2 linked regions of the Homo sapiens genome follow. The protein of the gene in region 1 interacts with the protein of each later gene in a biochemical or structural test. Each region holds a gene or a part of one and is shown on either strand. Other genes may lie near its edges.

Evidence for each region.
Region 2: the proteins of CALU (region 1) and APCS form a complex in vitro, tested with the Homo sapiens proteins (one study listed by BioGRID).

The regions. Positions count from the first base shown.
Region 1 is NC_000007.14:128,733,866-128,742,768, forward strand, and holds the start of CALU (calumenin isoform a precursor), read left to right. Parts: upstream 1-5,493; 5' UTR 5,494-5,567; intron 5,568-8,903. UniProt on the Homo sapiens protein: Involved in regulation of vitamin K-dependent carboxylation of multiple N-terminal glutamate residues. Seems to inhibit gamma-carboxylase GGCX. Binds 7 calcium ions with a low affinity.
Region 2 is NC_000001.11:159,582,915-159,590,145, reverse strand, and holds APCS (serum amyloid P-component precursor), read right to left. Parts: upstream 2,321-7,231; 5' UTR 2,225-2,320; coding exon 2,161-2,224; intron 2,046-2,160; coding exon 1,438-2,045; 3' UTR 1,281-1,437; downstream 1-1,280. UniProt on the Homo sapiens protein: Can interact with DNA and histones and may scavenge nuclear material released from damaged circulating cells. May also function as a calcium-dependent lectin.

The sequences.
Region 1 (8,903 bases):
ATTGACCTTTTTCTCAGTTCCTTTGCTGATTCATTCTCATCAACACCCCCCAATCATATCTGAACATCAGAAATTCCCAGGATTCAGTCCTTAAGTCTCTTGTAATCAAAACACACAGATTTCATGCCACAAATATACTCGTAAATTTATATATTTAGTCCAGACCACCATGTACTCGAGATACATATCCAACTGCCTAGTCGATATCTCTACTTGAATGTCTAATATGTATCTCAACATGCCCAAAACAAATCTCTCAATATTATCCCTCAAATTAGCTGGGTGTGGTGGTGCATGCCTGTAATCCCAGCTACTCGGGAGGCTGAGCCAGGAGAATCACTAGAACCCAGGAGGCAGAGGTTGCAGTGAGCTGAGATCACACCACTGTACTACAGCCTGGGCGACAGAGCGAGACTCTGTCTCAGAAAAAAAAAAAAATTATCCCTCAAAACTTTGTTCTCTCTAAAGTCTTCTCCATCCTAATAAGCAGAAGCCTCATTTTTCTACTTGCTCAAAACCCTGGAGTCATCCTTAACTCCTCTCTTTCTCTCCACCCTATTTCCAACCCATTAGGAAATCCTTTCAAACTACTTTCAAAATATATTCAGAATTTGATATTCTCACTACTTCCACTGCTACCAACCTGGACCAAACCATCATCATCACTCACCTGGATTGTTGCAAACACCTCCTAAATGCACTCCGTTCCTAACCTTACTCCCTTTCAGTCTAATGTGATCCTTTAAAAATCTTAGATCATGTTTCTTCTCTGCTCAAAACCTTCCAATGGTTTCCCTTCTGTATTAGTTAAGGCAATGCTAGCTCTGAAAGAGATAAATCCTAATATATCAATGGCATAAAATAGCTAATAGAAGTTCTACTTCTCATTCACAAAGAGTCCAAAAATGGTGTTCCTGGTTCAAAAACTGAGTGGCAGTTTCACAGGAACCTGGGCTTCTTCCATCTTGTGGCTCTGCCATCTGCAATACACAGCTTCTAGCCACAGAAAGAGAATGAGCTTGGAGAATTACACATGGCAGGTCTGTATGGCCAGTACTGGAAGTAGTGTACAACATCTCCACCCTCCTTCCTTCAGTCAGAGCTCAGTCATATGACCATACTGGAAGGGAGGCTGGGAAATGTAGTCTAGCTGGGTTCACAGAAAGAAGAAGAAACAATTTAGCAAATAGTCAGTCTTCATATCCTCTCACTCATCATAGCGAAAGCTAAAGTCCTTGCAATAGCCTAAAGGCCCTACATGGTGTCCCTCTCTCCCTCCCTCATTCCTGTTGCTCCCTCTCTGACCTCATGTCCTCTACTCTCCTTGCTACTGTACTGCAGTCCCACTGGCTTCCAGTTGCTCCTCAAACACTTCAAACATACTCCCAACTCAGGGCCTTGCCTTGGTGTTCCCTTTTCCTGGAATGTTCACCACCTTCAGATGTTCACTCACGTGTCACCCTCTCATGAGCTTCCCTGGCCACCTTTTCTGAGATGGCAACGCCACTCCTGATAGTCCCAACACTCACTGTTCTCCTTTCCTGCCTTATTTTTCTCCTTATGTAAGCAGACAGAGAGGGTCTGTATTAGTCCATTCTTGTATTGCTATAAAGAAATACCTGAGACTGGGTAATTTACAAAGAAAAGAGATTTAATTGGCTCAGAGTTCTGCAGCTGTACAGGAAGCACAGTGGCTTCTGCTTCTTGGGAGGCCTCAGGGAAATTATGGCGGAAGGCAATGGGGAAGCAGATACGTCTTGCATGGCTGGAGCAGGAGGAAGGGGCGGGGGAGGTGCCACAGACTTTAAATGAACAGATCTCATTAGAAATCACTCACTATACAGTACCAAGCGGGGATGGTGCTAAACCATTCATGAGAACTCCGCCCCATGATCCATTCACCTCCCACCAGGCCCCTCCTCCAATACTAGGGTTTACAACACAGATCCAAACCATATCAGGGTCTCCAGGGATAAAAGGAATTCAATCAACTCGAGCAATCAGCCTGTTTTACAGCCTTCTGCCCTGCAGCCTGTTCTTCCCCAAACCCTGCATGGAATGTGGTCACCTTGTTGGTTTGAACCAGCTCCTTGCAGACCCTGGCAATTTATAGATGAACTGAGTCAACTTTTCCCTTGACCATGCCAAAGTCTCCACCCTAGGAGGAGCTATAGCTTCGTTGCCATAACATGCCACCTATGTTCTGGCATAATGACTCACTCGTTTGTGCCACTGGGACCCCTCCTCTACATGTGATTTTGCACTCTCTCCATCACCCTGTAAAACCCTCCTGTCACTTTCCCCTGGGGAGACACTGCTTTAGAGAACATTCCCAGTATCCTTCTTACATATGCCAAGTAATAAAACTGCTATTGATCACAAACTGCGTTTTGCATTGTTTGTTACTCACTAAGCGAACAAACCCTGGTTTTTCAGGTAACAGCACCTGTCACCACCTCTCATTCTATGTATGTTGCTTTTTTGTCTTGTTTATGGGCTGTCTCACCTACCTCTACACACCAGAGTATAAGCACCGTGACAGACTTAATTTTGTTCACTGTTGTATCCCCAGTTCCTAGAACAGTGTCTGCACACAGGAAACATTGAAAGTTCAGTAGCACCCATGAGCAGAGATGGGAAGCTTGGAGATGAATGTCAGCCTTTTATGGTGACACCATCATGCCGGCCCCAAGCAGTCCTTCAGTGCTGCTCTCACTCGATGGCCTCGGGTGCAGCTATTGGCGGCATTTCTAATATGTGTTGTCCCTCAGGTCCTTTTCTTCCTTCCTCCACCTACTTTCTAACTCTGGGGCTCCCATGAGGCCTAATCTGCTTTCGTCTCCTCAAAAAGTTTATCTGTTCTCATGGCTCCATCAGCCATCTGCTAGCCAACAACCCCTCCCAAATATCTCCTCCAGGCTCTTGGCTCTTTCTCTTTGGCTATTCCGCCATCACATAGACTTCCTATGTCTTGAACTCAATTGACTTCCCTCATTCCATGCACCTAGCTCATTCTCCTAGTCTCCCATGATTAAACCTTTTAACTTTTGAGTGCTCCTTCTTCATTTCTTTCATTCGAGTGGTCACTAAGCTCAGGACTTATTTCCACTTTTAAAATCTCTCTTGTGGCTGGGCACCGTGGCTCATGCCTGTAATCCCAGCACTTTGGGAGGCCGAGGCAGGCGGATCACTAGAGGTCAGGAGTTCGACATTGGCCTGACCAACATGGTGAAACCTTGTCTCTACTAAAAATACAAAAATTAGCCAGGCGTGGTGGCACATGCCTGTAATCCCAGTTACTTGGGAGGCTGAGGCAGGAGAATCACTTGAACCTAGGAGGCGGAGGTGCAGTGAGCCAAGGTCGCACCATTGCACTACAGCCTGGGCGACAAAAGCAAAACTCCATCTCAAAAAAAAAGAAAAACAAAACAAAACAAACAAACAAAAAAACTCTTGTATATAAAGGTTCATTTCCATTTCCCTTTCCCTTGCTAGGCCAGGCCCTTCTCCATTAGGGAACCTCAGGGTTGGAGGGCCCTATCTCTGGCACCCTCACTACCTGTTTAGCCTTTACTAGGACAATTCCAGGATGGATGGCGCACCATTAAGCTGAGTTCCTTGAGGACAGGGACGATGTCCTGTTTACTTTGGGTTCACCAGCACATAACACAGTGCCTGACCTTAAGGAGTTGTTATTTTTATTTTTTAAGAGAAAGGGTCTTGCTCTGTTGCCCAGGCTGGAGTGAAGTGGTACAGTCATAGTTCATTGCAGCCTCAACCTCCTGGGCTCAAGCAACTAGCTTGAACTACATGTGTGTGCCACCACACCCAGCTAATTTTTAGTTTTTGTTTTTTTGTAGAGATAGGGGGAGGAAGGGTCTCGTTATTTTGCCCAGGCTGGTCTCAAACTCCTGGCCTCAAGTGATCCTTAAGGAGGTATTTTAAAAACTGTTTTCGAAATAATGCCTCCTGAGGTAGCCTGTTTTATTGTTAATACCCATTAGATGGCTTCCCTGTAGGCACAAGCTTAGAAACTTTCCCAGGAAGACCCACAGTTCCCACTGTCTTCAGTTCAGGTTCCTCAAATTGACAAGATCTTCCATTACCTCTCCAAACTTACTATCCATGCTTTTCTTTCATTGTTTCCCCCCACCCCTTTTTTTAACCTTCCTCATTTGCTACCTGGCCTGAGAATTTACCTCCCACTCTGCCCTCCACTTGTCCTTATTCCTATTACTCTTCTTGCTGAATAGTCCATTTGGGACTTCCTTAGTCCAGCCTTAGTCATATCTTCCTCTGAAGCCTTCCCTGACTACCACCAAGGGTCACTGACACTCCTTTGAATGCCAGAAGGATTAGTTGTAAACCTTTCACGTTGACAGTAACTAGCTTGCTTTCATGAGCTTAACTGTTTCATGAGTTTACAACTTGTCTCAATTTGATTTTAAACTACAGAGGCTTTATGTGCTAAGAATGCCACAGGTTTACATTCCATTTGTGTTGAAGCTATAGTAGCCTTTATTTGATATTTGTTTTAATTTCATGACATGAAATTAAATTTTCAGGGACATGCAACGGGTTCGGCCCATTCCCTTCACTTAACATTACTGAGCTGGGCAGTAAGCTCAGAGTTGCAGATATAAAGATGAATAGACAGATACCTACCCAGGAGCTTACTCTAGAAGAGGACAGATGGATAAGCTACATTTTATAGCAGAATTTGGCAAAGTGTACTGAAGCTATAAACAGCTATGATGGTAAATAAGGTAAGAATTATGCTTAGTGAGGTCAGGGAAGGCTTCTAGAGCTAACATCTGAACTGGGACTTCTATTGGCAAGGCAGAAAATCAGGAAAACGCACTTATTCCTGGCAGAGGAAGCCTCTTGATCAAAAATCTTAAGAGATGAAAAAGGACCGGTTGTTAGGAAACAGATGATGGTGCCCAGAGCGCAAGATGAGGGGGAGTGTTGGGAGATGGAGCTAAAAGATACACTGGTGCCAAAGACTGAAGAGCCTCCTGTAGATAGCGCAGGGCGCAGCGCTGAAGGGAAAGAAAAAGTTGGGATTGTTCAATAAAGTTGGTGACTGATTCAGTCGGATTAATTCCGCCCTGGTGGTCTTGTGGGAATGAAGATAACTAGCAGGATAGTCTAAGAAGCCCTGTGGAAGCAGAGTCATGAGCTGTGAATGGGGACGTGGCGGCCACACGGCCGCGCCCACGCCACCCGCAGTACGGGGCTGGGGCTGGGGCTGGGGCTGGAGCCCGCCGTCCCAACAATCCCGGGGACGAGAGTTGGGCGGGAATCCGCTCCACGCAACTCGGCGCGGTCCCGGGGACGTGGCGCTTTCCAGCCAATCCCGGCTATGCGATTGTTAGACCAATGGCTACTCGGGGACGCTATGCGACAGCGGCGGGTTTGCTGATGATTGGTCGGGAGGCCGCCGGCGAGGCGGATGAGGGCGGGGTGCGGACCCGCTTCCGGTTGGGCGGTGCTTGCGCGCGTGAGCTGAGCCGGTGGGTGAGCGGCGGCCACGGCATCCTGTGCTGTGGGGGCTACGAGGAAAGGTAAGTACGGTGATGCCCAGCCCCTTCACCACTGCCTCATCTTTATTCGCTTTCTTTCTGTCCCCGGTCTTGTTCTTGGCGCGGCAGGGGACTGCCTCACTCGGTGCCGCTGTCTCTGCTGGCGCCCGGGTCCCAGGCCTGATGCTGCTGGAGATCCCGGGACCCTCTGTGTGCAGCCTGGGATGGAGGCCGCCGCCCGTCTTACCGCGCGCTCTGGGAAGGGGGCTGGTCCGGTGGAACTCTGTCCCGTTGGGTACTGTTCTGTGCCTGGTTTGCTGCGTCCTGGTCCTCCATCTCTAGGTCACGCCACTCACCGAGTCTCTGGCACCAGAGGGTCATTTTTTGCCTCCGGAAGGTCGGAGGGCATTTGGATAGTGTTATTGTAAGAGTTCCTTGCCGCCTCCACTCACCATCCTGCTTGTATCTGCCAGCTCCGCCCCAAGGCCACATCCCGACAGTAGGGTGCATCTGCCAAGGTCGTGTTCACTCACCTAAAGGGTGCAGAAACAAGGGGGGAGAGAACGAGTGACGACACTAGGTGATATCTATGATTTTAAAGAAAAGCTGAATGTTTAGAGCTTCCATATTTGGCTACGTACTTCAGTTAGCGACGGAAAATAGTTTTTAAAGCTTTATTGGGGAATTAATTTTTGTTACGTTTTTTGTTGCTTCTAGCCCCATATCCTACTGATTTTTAGCATGCTGCGGTCAGAAATAAACTTAATTCCCTATAGCTGCCGCGATTAAGCGTAGAGTGGCTTGCAGTTTCAAAAGCTGCTTTTGCATCAAGGCCCAAGCTCCGTGGGTCTCCTGCTAAAACTTTTGAGCCTGTGATCTGAATTCCTAAGTGTATAAAATTCTAGAATAGTGTCTTCGAGAATTGAGTTGCGTTCATTTTCTGGTGTGGACCATGAAGTCAACGTTAATGAATTGGGAATAAGGTGGCTTCTAGTTGTTTTTTGTTCTAGTAGCTTATTCAGCTTGGAGGCAGAGAACCTTGGAATCTCTGTTAAATTAGTCTGCCATAGAATGGAACTTGACACAAGACAAATGCAAGTTTGACCTCACTCAGTAGATTTAATTAACCAAATACCAAACGACAGTAATCACTGAAGAATTTATATAGTATAATCCAAATGAGGGACCAGATATAACCTCTAAGTTGTATTTGTCAAGAAAATGAGTTTGCCAAGACCTAATCTGAGGTTTTACTGTGATTGGGGGGTGGGGGGGTTCCAATAGGATTCTTTTGAGAATCACAAGTAGGAAAGCCATGAGCTCACAAAAATGTATTGAGTATGCCTGAGTGAATAGTACTCAATATAGCTTTGAAACCAACTCATTGTCACTCTCAATGTAATCATTGTTTGTTTTCATTCATCCAGTGATGTGTCAAGAAGTACTTATTGATAGCACTTAATATCCATTAGAGCAGTATTGGGATCTATATATTGGTGTTATTTTTTAAAATTTATTTATTTTAGAGTTGAGGGTCTCAGTATGTTGACCAGGTGGAGCCTTGAACTCCCATGCTCAAGCAGTCCTCCTGCCTCAGCCTCCCAAGTAGCTGAGACTAGAGGTATATAACACCACACCCTAGTACATTGGTGTTAACACAGATTTTCTGTAACGTAGGTATACCAGGGATATTGAAAGGACAGAGGTGTAGCCAAGGATAGCCACTGGAAATGCTAGCTAGGCCACAAGGCCCTAGATTCTCACTCTCTGAACTCTTAAGTATGGATGTTGCTGATGCAGTAATTTATGTATTAGAGTTAAGACAGCTGAAATAACACTTTTGCCTGTTCCTGGCTGATTGCCAGATCCAGTAAACGGAATTGGAAGTTGGAGAACACAGGCAGGCAGGAACCACATTGCTGCCAAGTACCGCCCAATTAATTCAGTAAGATGTATTAATCCAGTAAAATGTATTGGTATCAAAAAAGTGCAAGACAATGTATTAGGGACAATATAGGGGTAATAATTTGTATTAGAATGATATGTAGACATTCTTCCAGAAATGTCGATTCTAAAGGGGAGCTAAGGAGACAACTTAAGGTAACCTATGGTCATTGTTTTTGAGTGGTTCAGACGAGTTTTATAGAAGTTTAGATTGGATCATACCCTTTTTGTCCAAAAAGAGAAAAAGATAACAGATCACTTCCAGCTAGAGTGATCATAGTAGGTAGGTCTTCTAGGATCTTAAATTTATTTATAGACATCTGGCACTGAAGGAAGTTTGAGCTAAAATAACTACCAAATTCTCAACAGTGTCACGCATGTTACACATGCACAGCAAAATTACAACTAGAAACCAAGGCTCCTATCCCTACATTTCAAATAGCATTTCTCTCACAATTGATTATGTATTAAGGCTTGTCAACGAAAAGGAAACTTTTTTCTCTCAGAATTTCTAGAACTTTTTTCTTTAAAAAGTTTTTTATTCTGTAGCCAGAAAAATTTAAAGTTTGTGCTGGGTTGCTTTGGTTATAGAACTAATGAAGCTTGAGTAATAGTTTCAGACATTCTCAGGGTTTTTCTTCTGCAGCCAGATTTTACACTTCTATTATCTCAGCTGTCTTATAAATGTATTCCCTCCATCACACAATATAATTAGAATGTATTGATGAACAGATGTAACTTCATCACTAGAGAGACGTTAAATAAATTATGTGTTGGTATCATGACTTTTATCAAATCATGAAGGATGCCATCACTTTTATGTGATAGTCCATTGGTATAGTACTAAAGTTTGTAAGTAAAGAATGTCAGATAGATAACAAGATAACTTCATTTTCGAGATCTCATAACCTGGGCCTTAGTATAGTTAAATTGCTATCAGTCTGTTCCCTGTAATCTCCAATTGAAGTAGACAGTTAAACAATGAGATCCTGCTTTTGCTGCGTTATGGAGAAATAAATGCCTTTTCTGGTGAATATCCATCCAGCTCAGAGAACTGGAATTTTACTACCACACCCATTTCTCCCAATTGTTAACATTGAGCAATGGGTCTTTGGTCAACCATAATAACTGTTGGATCACTCAGTGTTAACGTTCTTGTGAAGTTGAATTTAAACATCTAAATTTCCCTGAAACAATTTAAGTATTCTGTGACCAATGGCACTTTACCAAAATTGAAAGTTTGGGCCATGTATTGCTCGCAATACTGGTCCAATGGATACACTATGGACACTAAGGACAAAAACTTCCTTGAAAGCTCTAAGTTCTTACCTGAAGGGTGGGGTAGGGAGAAGTGATAAGAATTTAGAGCTTTTAAGGACATTTTTGGATGGATCGAAGAAACCAATTCTTAAGACTCATTATTATTAAAATCAC
Region 2 (7,231 bases), on another chromosome or scaffold:
ACGTGTGGTGGCGGCAAACAAACCATATCCAAACCATCATACCACCTCACCAGAAATGAGGTTGAAATGTTCTTATGAAGCCCCTGCTGCTCCATTTAAGTACTTCAGCAAATCTTCCCAGGTTCTGTCTGCTCTCCTCTGCTTCCACCCCATTGTCCCATTATGGAGTTTCCAGATTCTATCCTACTTCTTCATATCTGGTGACTGCCTCTGTTCATTCTGGCCAAATGGCCTCATGAGTTTGAAATCATGACATTGGTTACCATCCTGAAGCTTCTGGATGCTATCTTTCTGATTCCACTGACTACATGCTCTACTTATTATCAGTGAGAAAAGCCTGTCTTATTTCCCATATATGTAGCTCAAACTCCCTCTGGGATCCTTGCTTCTCTGGGAATGCAACTTATATCTGTTGACGATGTGCCAGGCACTGTGTTCCATGCTTTTCATAACCATAAAAATAACTACTAGTAATAGCATCTGACAATTATTTTTCAGTGTGATAGTTAGGATGTGGCTTGCTCTGCTAAGAGTTGTATCTGAAATGTACATGGAAAGTCCATTTCAGAGAGTATTCTGTGTATACTCTCTGTGTACATTTCAGAGAGAGTAACTGGGACCAGGTTATAGAGGGCAATGTCATATTTAGAGGTTTAAATCATGTCCTGTAAGAAGTGTGAATCCATGGAAGAATTTTAGACAGCATATTCATGTGAGCAATATTCAGAGTATAATATTTTTTGATGACATCAAGAGAACATTATGAAAATCAAGCATTGTACAGTCCTACTGAGGTTTTTGAGACATAAAGTTATGTTTGTCTTCATACAAAATGATCCCAGTCTCATACTTTTTTGGTTTTCATTCTGACTTCTTCTAGTTTTATTCTTCCTGTCTTATTACTTGCTGTCAGGTTCTCAACTATTGCTTACTTATATCATTATAGTTGTCTACCTGATGCAACCTCAGACCCCTTTTTGATCGATTTGTAGCTGGAAAAACAAATAGGAGAATTGTGATTACAATTCCACACATATTTTGAATCGTCATTAAAATGATTGTTAGTAGCTTTTAAGTATTGCCACTGTTGTGCTCATTGAGTGCTCTGGCTTTGTGATATATCTTTCTAGTTACTTACAGGTTTTCCTCCCCGTACTTGGCAATTGGAGTTTTCAGGATAATGAAACACCAATTACCAATGAAACACCAATTAGTAGATAGATAAGTAGTAGACATAAGATAAAGATATGGGACTATGACAAGCACTAAACAAATGCAGGTAGCATAATACAATATATATTTTTTTAATTAGGCAGACATACAGATAGGAAATTCAAAGAAGAAAGAGCTGCAGATGTAAGATCTAGTATCCAGTTGCTTTGACCAGATCTCTTAGACAGTCATTTCATTTTCAAGTGCTCTCGTTGAGTCAAGACCTCAGACCCACACCAAGGGTTTGATGATGACATATCCTCTGATTTCATAGTTCAGAGCCTGCCAGTCCAGGATATTGGCAGGGAGAGGGGTACCCTGATAGGCAGACAGGATATTTTCTGGGGGCAGCACAGAGTCCCACATGTACAAATCCCCAATCTCTCCCACAAAGGACTGGCTCCTATCAAACTTGCCCCCATAGGAATCCTGTTCCTGCCCCAGGACAATCTTGGGCTGAGCTTCTACAAAGTAACCCTGTCGCAGACCCTTTTTCACCAAAGGTGTCCCATTGATCCAAAATTCAGCAATACCTGATGAGGACTCCCAGCTCACACAGATGTGCACTGGAGCCGGGAACTTTTCGATAACTTTGGATGTAACTTTGTGTCTTCCAATGTATAGACTATACTCTCCAACTCTTTCTTTATAAACTAGTAGCTCATTATCCCTGCCTTGGGTATTGTAGGAGAAGAGGCTGTAGGCACGAGAGAGATCACTATAGGCTCGAAAACACAAGGTAAAGTTCTGTAGAGGCTTCTCCAGCGGTGTGATCAAGTTTACATGATCAGTAACAGATTCTCTAGGAAATACAAACACCTTCCCACTGAGGTCTGCGGGATAAAGAAAGAAAGATAATGACCTTCAGTATAAATGCAGGGAAAAGATATCTCAGCTTCAACCTATTTTCTCACTTTATGATTCTTGACCATTCCTTCACCTCCTTACCTGTGTGAGCAAAGGCTTCCAGGAGGCTGGTGAGGACAGAGATCCAAAGCAGCGGCTTGTTCATATTCCTGGCCTAGGGCTGTTATAGCAGAAGCAGTGACCAGGATGAGGGTAGCAGACAACACAGTGGCTGTCCCCCTAGCGTCTGATATTCATGCCCTTAGACTTCAGGTTATTCAGGGTTTATATGCACCTTGGGTGAGGATGGGGGAGGAAGAGCACCAATAATATGTGAGTGATTTTCCAGGTCTGCCTCCTGGCGCTTACGGTGAAGGAGTGGTGAGCCCTGAGCTGGAAAATCAATGGGAGTTATTTATTAGAGACAAGTGATGGCTAGAGCTCCAACTCCTGTGACCCAGATTTTATTGCTGGGAAGAGAGTCATTGCAGGGCAGCAGGGTTATGGATGGGATGAGGCGCTGGGCTGGCCATGTCAGCAGAGCCTCTCTCTGCTCTCTGGGCCCCCTCTCTGATGGCTCTGTGCTCTGCCAGAAGCTCCTGAGCCACACAGAGTGTATCGCTGAGCTCAGCCCTCTTGTGGGCTATGGGAACAAGGCCTTTTCTTTCTTTTATAGTTCTCAAGTTGTCTTGTATTTGTAGGATATTCTAGGATTCTGCTTTCTGCTGAAGACCCTAAAAAGTGCCTTCAACTTTGACTAATTCAACATCAAGTAATACATCCAGGCAAAGCTAAGGGGAAAGAGGGACTTGGAGAATAAACTTTCTGTCCCCATGAAGCTTAGTATTTTTCTGCTACTTCTACTCAGTGCTTTTTTTTCGTTTGCATATCATGGTGCTTCCTTATCCTAGATCTTTCCATTTCTCATTACGACTTGTTTTCTGGTTACTTCATGCTACCTGCAGAGATGTCAGCATCTCCCCAAGTTTTTCTCTCCTCTTCTTTGAGTCCTTGGTCATTGAGTGTATATCTAATCCATCTTTGGTGATGACCCCACTAATACATTTATTCACTAGCTCTCAGTTACTACACTAGGTGCTGGGGATTCAGTGGTCACTGGCTCTCTCACAGCCCCAGAGATCTCCACCTTCATTCTTTCTATGTCTCCTTCATTCTCTCTCTGTACAGTTTATTAACCACCACTCAAACCTTCTCTGCCTCTGAGATATCAAACTGAAGTTCTTCTTTCTAGCCACATTATTTCTTTCTCTCTCATCCCTGAATTATATGGTGTCTTGTTTCTCATCCTACTGTTTAGCCTCTTGTTCACTCTCTCTTCTGTTAGCTCACCACAGACCTAATCAGCCTTTTCAATGACACAATCACTGCCACCAAGAATACACTTTCTCTATCATTGTTCAAAGTATCCTTCCTATTCTCATCCCTGGGGAGTTTCCATTCTCTACTTTTTTTCTCTAAATGGAATCCCAGGTTGTGAAGCCTTATCTGGCTTGTTGCACAGTATAGGTTAGTGATAAAGTTGGGATTATGCATCTATTGACTCCTGAATTAAATACAGACCATTTGCTTGGAAGCCAATGCCATTTGCAATCTGGCTCTAACCTGGCTATTATCTCAGAATCTAATCCTATTCTCCAGTCAAACACCTCTAATTGTTGTTCTTTATACCTTCCTGGCTTTCTTGATTTCATTACTTCTATTCAGTGCCTTCATACTGTCTTGAATTTCTCTCTTATTTTCTTTTCCTGTTTCTAGGAATTCCAGCCATTCTTCCACATTAATCTCAAGCTTATTTAGGTGATGGTTATAGTAAAAGCCCAGACTTCACTATTATGTTATTGCTGTCTATGTAATAAAACTAAACTTGTATGCCTTGAATTTATACAAAAATATAAAAAATAAAAAACAATCTGCTTCATGAAGACTTTTCTAATATCCCAACTATACATTATTTCCCCTCTTTCGTACTTCCCATAAGGTTAAGATCAAAGACTTTGGGATAGAATTCCAATGTTGCCATTTACTAGTGGCTGACTATTCTGCAAGTCACTAAACCCCTCTGAACCTTAGTTTCCTTCTCTGTGAAACAAAGATAAAACTATCTACCTCACAGTGTTTCTCTAAGGATAAATGAGATACTATGATATACATAAAGTACATGGAACAGTATCTGGATGGTTATTATTACCATCATTTTAGAGCCTTTATGGCTGTTACCACTATCTGTCTCATATTATAGATATTATTGTATTTATCTTGAATCCCTTCTAGACTGAATCTGGGTATTAGGACTTATTTATATTTAGATCATTGGTTTCATCTAACAATTTTTCTTACACATGAAAAGAAACTGTTACATATTGTGGAATCAAAGGACTCAACTTTGTGTGAGGATTTTTTTTTTTTTACAAGAAACAGTTTATTAGCAACAAAAAGTAGAATACAATTGAATAATATGATAAGGTAATACTGGAAGTAGGAGCAGGAAGGTAACATTTCTTGAGAACCCAGGGACTATGCAATTCCCTAACATTTCCAGATGTTAATTAATAAGTGCCATAAAACTCAGAGAACACAGGGCTTACCAGATGCTTCTAGTTTTCTTCATAAATAAATAAATAATCATTATCTTAACAAAAAATGGTTTGCAAATTAATATCAAAGAGAGTCTTCTCTAATGGGAGATAAGCCTAGGGAACAGGTCTTGGGGATAAGTGACACAGCCTTAGACTCATGGTGGGAGAGCTTGGAGATAACGGCTTTAGATAGCTGTTGGGGCCAAGTGCAAGGGTTTGCAGTTGAATATGAAAATGTTGTGTTATACACTGTGAAAAGGAAACCCTGGTTGGAAGGTAGGGTCTACAGTATAATTGGAAAAGGGAGAAAAAGTGGAGTCTGATTCTGTTGTCTAGTTTCCTTCCCCAGAATATGCTTCTCAGGCCTTGGAAGAGAACAGCCTGCACTTCAAGAGTTGTCAAAGAGGAAACTGAGAATTATTTTTATTGTAGAAAGGAAAAGTTCTGATGTCAGGATGTAGGAAAATGAATCCTGGGTCTTCAGAACTGGGTGCAATCCTCACAGTGAGCCAATCCTCACTGTTGCTGGATCCTCCTGGGTGCCATCCTGCCAGTGAAAGTTCAGGTCAAGGTGGCGGCTCCTGTCTGGATGGCTATGGAAGAGTTGAGGCTGGGGGAAGAAAAGATACAGTATGCTGAAGAGAAACAGGTCCACCTGTGTGCCACAAACAGAGTTGTCTTGGCTACATTAATTGGCATGCAACAAAGTTTACCCTCAGAGAGCATAGTGGAAGAAGGCATCAGCAGTAGCAGAAAGAGGATCTGACTCGGAGCTTCAAAAAAGCAGAAGTATGAGATATAACTGGAGATCACCTGAGGGATTAAAGAATAACCTAAAGATGGTTTCTGAGACCTCAGGTGTTTGTAGAAGACATTAAGTCACAGTAACCAATGGGAAAGACTGGATAGGAAGAGACTGAGTAGAACAAGATTTGTGTTCAGTAAAGAATTATTTGCTGTGTGTTCTGTCAGTTGTAAGGGAATTTGAGAGCATTTAGATGGAAAGAGGCAATGGAGGCATGCATCAAGAGTAACTGATTATCACTCTGATATGTGGTTGGATAAAACCAAAGATACACAACTTAGACTGATGGCAGGGTCTTATTGTAAGTGCAAAAAAGGACAAAGATGAGAATTAAAAATATATATATAGAATATGGAACCATATTTCTTACTGCAAATCATGTGGAAAAAAAATATGGTGCTGCCAGTACAGATAGGACAATTGAGAGGATGTTCACTTGGAGGAGGTGGAGGGTAGGTGGTAAACTTGGTTCCTCAAATGCTAAATTTGAAATGATAGTATGACTTATGTGTAAGAAAGGTCTTGGAGAATTTGTAATATGTGACGGCCACTTGGAATTAGAAATACAGGTTTCAGAGAAATCAACATATAAATGATAATGAAACAAAAATGAATTTTGTCTTTCAGTGGAAAAGAGAAGAGAGGAAAGGTCAGGGAGCCAACCACTGACTTGAGGAAACATTCACATTCATGGTGTTAGAGGCAAGATAAGAATGGCAGGTGGGGAGGGAGGTGGGAGACAAAAAATTATGTTTGGCAGAGAGGATAGCGTGTGGTGTCATGGAAACCAAGTCAGTGTAAGTGTCCAGGAAGCAGTATCCAGTGGTATTAAATGCATCAGAGAGATCTAAGTTGAATGCATGCTGGATTTAGCAATAAAAACTTCAGTCGTAACCTTTGAAAGAGTAATTTTCATAAAGTGAGCATGTCAGAAGCCAAGTTTCAGGGAATGATGGAGGGAGAAAGAGGAAGGGAGTTTGTTTCCTAAGGTTCAGTAATTCTGACAAAGAACAAAAGGAGAGAAACAAGATTCTCCACAGGAGACTTGGGATTCAATGCATATTTCCCACACAGTTTATAGATTGTCTCTTCTTGACAGAGTGGCTATCATGTCTTTGTTGCCTACCTAATAACATTTCAGCCAACAACAGAGAAAAATCAGTGTCCACCTGAGATTATGACTGACCTTTCTACCAAAGTAGCTCTTTCAGACTCTAAATGCCAGGCTCAGGCTGCTGTGAACTCCTAACTCCCCTTCACAATTCTGGCAGCTTCACAAATTTGTCAGTCACTTTCCAGGTCATGCTGATACACAAGAGTCTTTTCTTGATCTCATTTCTCTGTTCCTAATTTCAGGGTTCATTTATAAAAGAAAATCTCTGCTAAGTTTTTTTTTATCTTCTACTTTTAGGTTTAGTGAGACACCTCGACCATATTACCTCACTGAAATCTCACTTTTAAGTTCAGAATTCACCTGAAACTGCTCTCTGGAATGTCACCATATCTGTATCTTAGTCTTTATCTTTCTTGACATCCCTTCACTCTTACACTTCTTTTTGAACAACCCATCTTTATAGTTTTATAAAATATAGATTTCATTGCTGAGATTAATGTTTATTCATTTTTTAAATATAAATTTTTAAATAAAATTTACCATTCAGACTCCCACTGGCCACAACCATCTTCATGCTGTTCACAATCCCTTCATAATACCTGAGTCTTCTGGGAGGAGATGTGCAAAGAAGAAAAATGTAACAGCAGGGACTCAGTG